3 linked regions of the Homo sapiens genome follow. The protein of the gene in region 1 purifies or fractionates together with the protein of each later gene. This does not show direct contact. Each region holds a gene or a part of one and is shown on either strand. Other genes may lie near its edges.

Region 1 (4,085 bases):
ACTCTAAGAGGCTATGAATTGAATTGGCCTCATCATTTTGGCTGCTGAGATGGGAGCCGTGTGCCCTGATCCTCACACCATTTCCCATCACCCTGCCTTGCTCTGCCCCACCGACACCCCACATACCCCACCCTACCTCTTCCGGCTCCCAAATCTAATTTCTTTTTGAAAAAGTCACCAGACACTTTGAGACTGTCCAACAAACACGATTAAAGACAAAAGGCTGGGGAGGCAGGAGCAATGCCAGCTGAGCAAAAAGATTGTCCTGGCCTGACCCACAGCCTGGAGCCGCTCTCCCTGGGGAAGGGGGACTGGGGGATGAGAACCTTTTGTGCCCATCAGCTCCTAATGGTGGCTCAGGCCCATGCATCTCTCTGCTCTTGCACCCACACCCCCACCCCCCATTCCTCACCCAGCTCCCTGCAGGACTCAGGCATGGAGTAAAGAGTAAGAACCCTGAAATGGAATGAGGAGTACTTGAATCTTGCCCCAGCTCTGCTTTCATTCCCTGTGAAATGTGAGCAAGTCACCCCCATCTCCAGACCTCATTGGTCCATCTATAAAATAAGAACCCTGGATCAGATTGGCCACCAGCCACCTGCTCAGAAGTTTACTTATCCTTGCAGACTTTGATACTGTGACAAGTTGAAACCCAGACCACAGCTTTCTGCATTTACCTTAAGGCCCAGGGCTGGGGCACGGAGTAGAGGTAGGATTAATCCATTGGAGAGAATAGTGTAAAAGCATTTCAGACCGTGGATGCACAGGGTCTGGGTTGATTTGGAAATCACTCCTTGAGCACCGACTAGGTGCTGGTGCTGTGCTAGGTGCTAGGGGTGCACAGGTGTGCTAAGACAGAGTTGCTGCCCCCAAGATCTCAAGTCTAGCATGAGAAATTAACTCATCAGCAGATCATTTCAAAATAACACTGTAAATGACATACCGGATGCATGTGAATCCACAAGGGGATATGGGAGTCCAGGGGAACCCAACCTAGGAGGACCAGGCAGATTTTTGGCAGGGGGTGGCACTTGAGCTGTTTCTGAGCATGAATCGCTGAAAGGTTTACAGAAAGTGTTCCCAGGACGGTGCTAAGGCGCTGAAGCAAGGGCAGGGGCTGAGTGCAAAGGGAACTTCAGGCCCTCTAGCTAGACAAGAGGATGGAGCTTTGCATGGAGAGAAAGCTAGTGACAAGGCTGGGGGAAGGGGCCCTGCAGGGGCTTCATCCTGGAGGGGTCTGAGCCAGACAGGAATGTGGGTAGATGTACATTTCCGGTTCTCTGTGCGGAAGCAGGGTGGTGGGCCAGGAAGGAGGGCAGTGGGCTTGTGTGGTTGGAGGGTGGTACTCTTTCTTCCGGCTCCCCTTTCCCCCCGAGTGCCTCCTTCCCACTGTGGATGGCACTTACCATGTGCGCCATGGGACAACTCTGCCTGACCCCAGCACACACACACACACCCCCCACACCACACACATACACCACACACACCACACATGCACACACACACCACACACATATATACGCACACACCCATACACATATACACGCATACACCCATACACACACATCATACACACACACATACACCACACACACCACACACATACACCCATACACACACATACACATATGCCACACACACCACACACGCATACACACCACACACATATACACACATACACCTATACACACACATCATGCACACACACCACACACGCACACACACCACACACACATATACACACATACACCCATACACACAACATACACACACACATACACACATCCATACATACACATCATACACACACATACACCACACATACCACACATGCACACACACCACACAGATATATACCCATACACCCGTACACATACACTACACACCACAGATGCACACACACGCCACACACATATACACACATACACCCATACACGTACATCATACACACACATACACCACATACACCACACATGCGCACACACATCACACACATATACACACATACACCCATACACACATATCACACACACACACACACACACACACACACACACACACAGATTCCACTGCCCAGCCCATCGGGGCACTTAACATATATGGTAGAAATGAATTATTTGGAAAGGGGCCATGAGTGGCCGACCTGCTGTAGACAATTTTTGTGGTTCCCTCCACCCTGGGGGGTTTGTATCCAGTGAGTGACAGAAATTCCAGGCATGGTTGGAAAGCTTCTGGAGTGAAGTGGCCCCTAGTTCTTAGTGGGTAGGTAGATGCCCTTGGTTAGGCTTGTATTTGCCATCTGTAATTTGGGGGGAGCTGCTCAGAGGAGCCCCATTGCTCTCAAGAGCCCCGAGCGGTTCCCTAGGTCCATCCAAGCGTGTCTGTGGTCTCTAATTCCAGCCACAGCATTTATTTATTGCATGTATTCCTTCCACAGCAAGAGAGAGCCCTCGGGATCCCCAGAGTGTTAGCTTCACAAATAAAGTGCGACTCAGTGTATTCGCCCAGGCATCCCAGGATAATCTGGCCAGGCTGGTAAACAGGAAAGATCAGTGTCTCCCTCCCCTGCCTTTGCCTGCCTGGATGCATCTGTCCGTCTTAGAACGGATTCCCTGCTCCCCTCCAGAGCATCCCCAGGTCAGGGCAGACCCCCTTCCCAGGGGTGGACACTGCAGTGTGCCTACCTTGCCTCAGTCCTGGCCTGGGCAGGAGTCTGGCGGAGCCTCTGAGGTGACGAGACCACCTGGCTGGGTGAATGTCCAGAGGGTGGGCAGCTGGGCTCCCGGTCTCAAGAGTTCTCCCCAGCTCCCTGATCACATCCCTTTTATAAAGCCCGGGGTGACGTCTCCAAGCACAGGCCCACTCTGCCGCCCCTCCCTCCTCCTCAGACCCTCCTGAAGAGCATGGCACCTTGGGAGGCCTCTGCCTCCGGGCTCTGTGACTGGAGGCAGCCTCTCCTCCTGCCCCACCCGAGCCCTCCGAGGCGGGACTTTCTCCTTCTTACCGGCTCTTTCCATCCTCCACACCCTCTTCCCACCCAGAGGACCCATCCTGCCCCCAAACAACGTGGAAATGGGCTATCTGAGGAGGGTGGGGAGAAGTGTCAGTGTGAAATGTCTTGTTTCCTCTCCGAAGAGCCACAGACACACCTAGTCTGAATTAGACGTAGAAAACGACAGGAAGAGGGGAGGAGAAGGGCACAGGCTGACCCAGGGGCTCCTCACATCCCATGCTCCCAGCTCTGAGGGAAAGCCAGGTCAGCGTGGGTCTCCAGGCGGCTCCTAGACTGCGCCCTGTGACTGGCACAGGGTGGTGGTGGCAGAGATTCTCTCCTTTTTCCTTCCTTCCTGCTTCCCTTCTTTCCTCGGTCACTGAGCGCTTCCTCAGCGCAGGGTTTTGAGGTGAATAGGCTATGGACTGGTCAGAGACCTTAGGTAAGCAACCAGCTATGAGCAAGGAGGACGAAATGGGAGCTGCAGAAGGTGGATGCACCTGGGAAGTGCCAGGGGTGCAGAGAGGGGACTTCCAGGTGGCAGCACATCCAGACAGCCTGCTTGGGGGCCCCACCTTCTTGTCTCGTGGCACCCACCACCATACTATTTTGTGACTGCTCAGGTACAGCACTTTGAGGACAGGGACAGGCCCCCTTCCCCCTGTACCCTTGGCACCCACTCCATTGCTGGGCACATACAGAGAGGGCCCTCAATAGATATTTGCTAACTGCATGCATCGCAAGTGACTTTTGTCTCTTTCTTGAGCCTGCAATAACTCTCTATACCCTTGGACAAGGGGCTCTCCAGGGCAGAGACTGTTTCTTCTATCAGGCTGGGAGTCTCTGAAGGCAGGGGCTATGTCTCTACCCTCAGACAGGACGCTCTCCCAGCACAAGCTCAACCTGGTCGTCCCCTAATGCTGGAGAAGCATGCCGGCAGTCTGCAGGTTAGCACCCCTCACTTGTCTGATGCTTACTGTTAACAGGGGATTGCAAACATATTATTATCACACCCATTAGGGCTGTTAAACACCAGGACAGAAATGATAGCCTATGAGGACAGCACTGACCCTCATAGACCAAAACTTCGCTG
Region 2 (2,722 bases), on another chromosome or scaffold:
TCTGCCTGTCCCTCTCTCCCAGGACCCATGGCCTGCCCCACTGGCGGGTAGCAGTGGCTGTAGGGAGGAGGGCTGTGGCCCTGGACCTGTCCTCTGACCATTGGCTTCCTCTCCAGGAGGCTGTGAAGCCCGTGCTGTGGCACTCGCCCCGCCCCCTGGGGCCCCCTCAGGTCCTGTTCTCCTGCGCTGACCTCGGCCTCCGCCTCCTGGCCCCACTGATGCCCTTCCTGGCTGAAGAGCTCTGGCAGAGGCTGCCCCCCAGGCCTGGTTGCCCCCCTGCCCCCAGCATCTCGGTTGCCCCCTACCCCAGCGCCTGCAGCTTGGTGAGTCCCAAGCACCTTGGAGTGGGTCTGTGGGTGAATGGGGGGGAGCACCTTCTGAAGGGGTTTGCTGCAGGGGGCTCATCTGCAGGAATGGTTCGTACTTTACTGTGGAGCCCTGGGGAAGATGGATTGTTCCTGCAGGGTTGCTGCGATGACCCTAGGGTCTTGAGGGACAGTATTAGCGTAGTGCTCAAGAGCAGGACTCTGTTGCTAGACTGCTATTTTTGAGCTGTGTGATCGAGCCTCAGTTTCCCGCATGTTTAAACTAGGAACAGTAATAGTATATGTTATGGTTGTGATGAGGGTTGGATAAGTTAGTAATAGGGTGTCCCCAAAATCTCAGTGCAGCTTTAATAACTTCAGAAGGATAAATGCTATGAACTCACCCAAAAATTATTTTAAAATTTAACTATTTAAATTTATACTTATTTGGTTTTGAGTTTTGACTAATTCATTTTAAATTCTAATTTATTTTTGGTTGGCCATTTCAATCACAGCAACTAAACAGGCATCAAACACTGATCATCTAAAACCTCTTAAATGACGCCTCACTTTTTGTCATGTTCCTTGAGATAGTGGATTTTCTGTGGTGCTGAGGACAGATCTCATTGCCCTAAGGAGATGGGGTGGATGGGTCGAGAAGAGAGCCAGCAGGGTTGGTACTGAGTCTCCCAGGAGCCCCTTTGCCAATTCTGGGTCCCCCCCATTGCCAGGAGCACTGGCGCCAGCCAGAGCTGGAGCGGCGCTTCTCCCGGGTCCAAGAGGTCGTGCAGGTGCTAAGGGCTCTCCGAGCCACGTACCAGCTCACCAAAGCCCGGCCCCGAGGTGAGGCAAGGCGGGTCCTGGGCTCGGATCCCTGCAGGAAAAGGGGGCTGGTGGGGAAAAGAGCAGAGCCTGAAGGGCCAACCCCCCCGTTAGGAGGTGCAGGGTAGGAAGGGAGGCAGGAGCTGAGGCCTTGCCCCTGACAGTTTCTTTCTTTCCAGTGCTGCTGCAGAGCTCAGAGCCTGGGGACCAGGGCCTCTTCGAGGCCTTCTTGGAGCCCCTGGGCACCCTGGGCTACTGTGGGGCTGTGGGCCTGTTACCCCCAGGCGCAGCAGCTCCCTCCGGCTGGGCCCAGGCTCCACTCAGTGACACGGCTCAAGTCTACATGGAGCTGCAGGTGACCAGAGGGGATGGGGAGGGTTAGGGCAGGCTTGGGAAGCATGCTGGGAGGAAGGGAGGGGCTGGGCTCTATAAAGTAGGGGAAGGGACCTTCTAATGGAGGATGGAGGCCTGGCAGCAGGCGGATGTCTGAGCCTTTTCTCCCTGTTCTTCCCCAGGGCCTGGTGGACCCGCAGATCCAGCTACCTCTGTTAGCCGCCCGAAGGTACAAGTTGCAGAAGCAGCTTGACAGCCTCACAGCCAGGACCCCATCAGAAGGGGAGGCAGGGACTCAGAGGCAACAAAAGGTAAGGCTGAGGGAGGCCCCCAGAAGGCTCCACCCCTGAGGGAATGTGGGCCAGGAGGGGCCTCATTCCTGGATCCTCACCTCCTTTTCTCCTCGTCCAGCTTTCTTCCCTCCAGCTGGAATTGTCAAAACTGGACAAGGCAGCCTCTCACCTCCGGCAGCTGATGGATGAGCCTCCAGCCCCAGGGAGCCCGGAGCTCTAACTCATCATCCCCATCAGTTTTCCTCCCTCTCAGACCTGTCTTTGAGGACAAACAGATTTGTCAGCTGTCAGGGTGCAGTGGGACGTCAGAGACTATGTGGTCCATCGCCTTCATTGTGTAAATGAGGACACAGACTGGCTTGGTCGCAGTGACTGTGGTGTCCTTGAGATGCTCACATTACTGCCCGGCCTGCCTCCCACCTGGAAGTCTGGGAATGAGGAGATTGAGATAAACTTTTGAAATCCCAAACATGTCTGTTTATGGCTCTTTGGTCCCCTTTGCTCCCAGTGGTGACTTTTGTGCTTCTGAGTTGTCCCCTGAGAGCTTGGTCTGGGAAAAGAGGAGGAGGGGTCCTCGCTGGAGGAAGAGGAACTTTCTAGTCATGGGTAGGGTATGGGCACAGTGGTTCCGGTTCTACCTACTTTCTGGACTAACTGACAGTGCCCTGGCTTTTGCAGGCTCTTTCTCCTCCACTTCTCACTAAATGGAAGCTTCCCCGCTCCTTGGCTGTATCCCTAGAGGTGCTGAGAGAAGTAGGACTTCCTCCAGACCTGATGGGCTGCAGGCTGTGCTGCAGATGGTGTGCCCCCACCTTCTGTGCTCTGACACCTGAGTGCCCAGCCTCTGAGTTACACATTCACAGCACAGCCAGCCACCTTACCCACGCCAAACACCATCTCATCTCCATGGAATTCAAGGGCCTGGCCCTTCCACGCCCAGAGTACATTCTGTCCAGCAGCTCTGAGTAG
Region 3 (3,500 bases), on another chromosome or scaffold:
TAGCCTGGACAACAAGAGCAAAACTCTATCTCAAAAAAAAATAATAATAAGACCCCATCTCTATAAAATAATATATATATTTTTTAAGACAGTCTGGTTCTCTCGCCCAGGTGGGAGCGCAGTGGAGCGATCTCAGCTCACTGCAACCTCTGCCTCCCGGGTTCAAGTGATTCTCTTGCCTCAGCCTCCCGAGTAGCTGGGATTACAGGCACGTGCCACCAATCCTGGCTAATTTTTGTATTTTTAGTAGAGAAGCGGTTTCACCATGTTGGCTAGGCTGGTCTCAAACTCCTGACCTCAAGTGATCTGCCCACCTCGGCCTCCCAAAGTCCTAGGATTACAGGCATGAGCCACCGCGCCCGGCCCAAAACAATTTTTAAAAATTAGTCAGGTGTGGGCTAGGCACAGTGGCTCACGCCTGTAATCCCAACACTTTGGGAGGCCAAGGCAGGTGGATCACGAGGTCAGGAGATCAAGACCACCCTGGCCAACATGGTGAAACCCCGTCTCTATTAAAAATACAAAAATTATTTGGGCGTGGTGGCGTGCACTGGTAATCCCAGCTACTCAGGAGGCTGAGGCAGGAGAATCGCTTAAACCCAGGAGGTGGAGGTTGCAGTGAGTCCAGATTGTGCCACTGCACTCTAGCCTGGGCGACAGAATGAGACAATGTCTCAAAAAAAAAAAAATTAGGTGTGTTAGTAGATGCCTGTAGTCCCAGCTACTCGGGAGGCTGAAGCAGAAGGATAGCTTGAGCCCAGGAGGTCAAGAAGGCTGCAGGTAGCTACGACACTGCATGCCAGCATGGGCGACAGAGTGAGACTCTTCCTCAAACCAAACCAAACAAACAAACAAAAAACCACAAGCCGGGCGCAGTGGCTCACGCCTGTAATCCCAGCACTTTGGGAGGCCCAGGCAGGCAGATCACCTGAGGTCAGGAGTTCCAGACCAGCCTGGCCAACATGGAGAAACCCCACCTCTACTAAAAATACAAAATTAGCCAGGCTTGGTGGCAGGCGCCCGTAATCCCAGCTACTCGGGAGGCTGAGGTAAGAGAATCAGTTGCTTGAGCCCGGGAGGTGGAGGTTGCAGTGACCATGCCACTGCACTCCAGCCTGGGCAACAAAAGCGAAACTCCATCTCAAACACACACACACACACACACACACACACACACACACACACACACTAGGTGACTAGCAAAAGTGTCCTGGGGACTACTTGAGCTTGCATGGTCAGGCAGGTGGCTCTGAGGGGCCAGAACCTTGGAGAGTGGAAGGATGAAGAGGAAGGAGACGTGGGCAGGTTGAGGCGAGGAGGTGGGTCGTGCTCCAGGCCTGGCTGTCCCATTTGCAATAAATGAAGGAACAGACGAACAATGCTACAAAGACTCAATGTCTCAAAATGACTTTTGGGAGAATGTCTTGTACCAATCTCCCTCAAAATATGATCCATTTTCTGCATGCTCCATCTTGCCACATTAGGGGTTCTCCCCACACTAGCACCTGAGGCATGAGATGCCCCTATCAGTTGCTCCAAACAGTGATTTTTCACTAGGATGGAGGATAGGGGAGAATGACAAAGATGTCTTTTAAGAAAGAGGGCCGGGCATGGTGGCTCACGCCGTAATCCCAGCACTTTGGGAGGCTGAGGCGGGCAGATCACAAGGTCAAGAGATCGAGACCAGCCTGACCAACATGGAGAAACCCCGTCTCTACTAAAAATACAAAAATTAGCCGGGTGTGGTGGCACACGCCTGTAATCCCAGCTACTCGGGAGGCTGGGGCAGGAGAATTGCTTGAACCTGGGAGGCAGAGGTTGCAGTGAGCCAAGATCACGCCACTGCACTCTAGCCTGGGCAACAGAGCAAGCCTCCATCTCAAAAAAAAAAAAAAGAAAAAAGAAAAAGAGCCGGGTGTGGTGGCTCATGCCTCTAATCCCAGCACTTTGGGAGCCTGAGGCAGGCAGATCACCTGAGGTCAGGAGTTTGAGACCAGTCTAGCCAACATGGTGAAACCCCGTCTCCACTAAAAATACAAAAATTAGCCGGGTGTGGTAGCATGCACCTGTAATCCCAGCTACTCGGGAGGCTGAGACATGAAAATCGCTTGAACCCAAGAGGTGGAGGTTACAATGAGCTAGGATCGCACCACTGCACTCCAGCCTGGGCAACAAAGCGAGACTCAGTCTTAAAAAAAAAAAAAAAAAAAAGGCAACCCAACTTAAAAATGGCCCAAACATTTGAAAAGACACGTTACCAAAGAGATGAATAGCTAAGAAGCTCATGAAAAACTGTCCAACATCATTAGTTATTAGAGAAATGCAAATTAAAACCAAAATAAGACTGGGAACAGTGGTGTGCACACCTGTAATCCCACTTATTCCAGAGGCTGAGGCCCGAAGATTGCTTGAACCCAGGAGTTCCAGGGTGCAGTGAGCTAGGATCGCACCATCGCACTCCAGCCTGGGCGACAGAGTGAGACCTCATCTCACAAATAAATAAATAAATAAAAACACCAAATGAAGACACCAGCACACACCTATAAGAATGGCTAAAACTAAGGACTGGCCATACCAGGTGTTAGTGAGGATGAGGAGGAGCTGGAACTCTTGAACATTGCTGGTGGGGATGCAAAATGGTACAGCCACTTTGGGAACAAGCTTGGCAGTTTCCTAAAAATTAAAACATGGCCAGTCTCAGTGGCTCACACCTGTAATCCCAGCACTTTGGGAGGCCGAAGCAGGCGGATCCCCTGAGGTCAGGAGTTCAAGACCAGTCTGGCCAACATGGCAAAACCCCGTCTCTACTAAAAATACAAAAATTAGCTGAGTGTGGTGGCGCATCCTTACAATCCCAGCTACTCAGGAGGCTGAAGCAGGAGAATCACTTGAACCCAGGAGACAGAGGTTGCAGTGAACAACTGCTGGGCAACAGAGAGAGACTCCATCTCAAAAAAAAAAAAAAAAAAAAAAAAATTAAAACATAGCCAGGCGTAGTGGCTCACACCTGTAATCCCAGCACTTTGGGAGGCAGAGGTGGGAAGATTGCTTGAGCCCTGGAATTCAAGACCAGCCTGGGCAACATGGCAAGACTTTGTCTCAACAAAAGCACAGAAAAAATAGCTGGGTGTGGTGGCATACGCCCTTGTAGTACCTACCAGCTACTTGGAAGGCTGAGGTGGGAGGATCACCTGAGCCCAAGGAGGTAGAGGCTACAGTAAGCCGTGATTGCACCACTGCACTTCAGCCTGGGCAACAGAGTGAGACCCTGTCTCAAAAAAAAAGAAATTTAAACACATCTACCATATGAACTAGTCATTCTACTCTTAAGTATTTACCCAAGAGGATGAAAATATACGTCCACACAGAGACACATATCCAGATGTTCACAGCAACTTTATTTGCAGTTGTCAAAATGGAAACAACCCAACAGTCCATCAACCAGTTAATGGATAAACAAACTGTGTCCGTCCATACGAGATTGTATGGACGGACACAGT

Evidence for each region. Proteins that work in one complex are often made in the same cells at the same time.
Region 2: the proteins of KISS1 (region 1) and VARS2 purify together in Homo sapiens (affinity purification with mass spectrometry; one large-scale study listed by BioGRID and IntAct). This does not show direct contact.
Region 3: the proteins of KISS1 (region 1) and KLHL26 purify together in Homo sapiens (affinity purification with mass spectrometry; one large-scale study listed by BioGRID and IntAct). This does not show direct contact.

What each region holds. Positions count from the first base shown.
Region 1 is NC_000001.11:204,193,692-204,197,776, forward strand, and holds the start of KISS1 (metastasis-suppressor KiSS-1 preproprotein), read right to left. Parts: upstream 2,801-4,085; 5' UTR 2,685-2,800; intron 1-2,684.
Region 2 is NC_000006.12:30,924,238-30,926,959, forward strand, and holds the end of VARS2 (valine--tRNA ligase, mitochondrial isoform 2 precursor), read left to right. Parts: intron 1-116; coding exon 117-323; intron 324-1,036; coding exon 1,037-1,148; intron 1,149-1,306; coding exon 1,307-1,482; intron 1,483-1,642; coding exon 1,643-1,771; intron 1,772-1,871; coding exon 1,872-1,973; 3' UTR 1,974-2,222; downstream 2,223-2,722. UniProt on the Homo sapiens protein: Catalyzes the attachment of valine to tRNA(Val) in a two-step reaction: valine is first activated by ATP to form Val-AMP and then transferred to the acceptor end of tRNA(Val).
Region 3 is NC_000019.10:18,640,028-18,643,527, reverse strand, and holds part of KLHL26 (kelch-like protein 26), read right to left. Parts: intron 1-3,500. UniProt on the Homo sapiens protein: May play a role in endo(sarco)plasmic reticulum (ER/SR) mitochondrial signaling. May be part of the ubiquitin-proteasome system (UPS) and affect ubiquitination and degradation of target substrates in cardiomyocytes.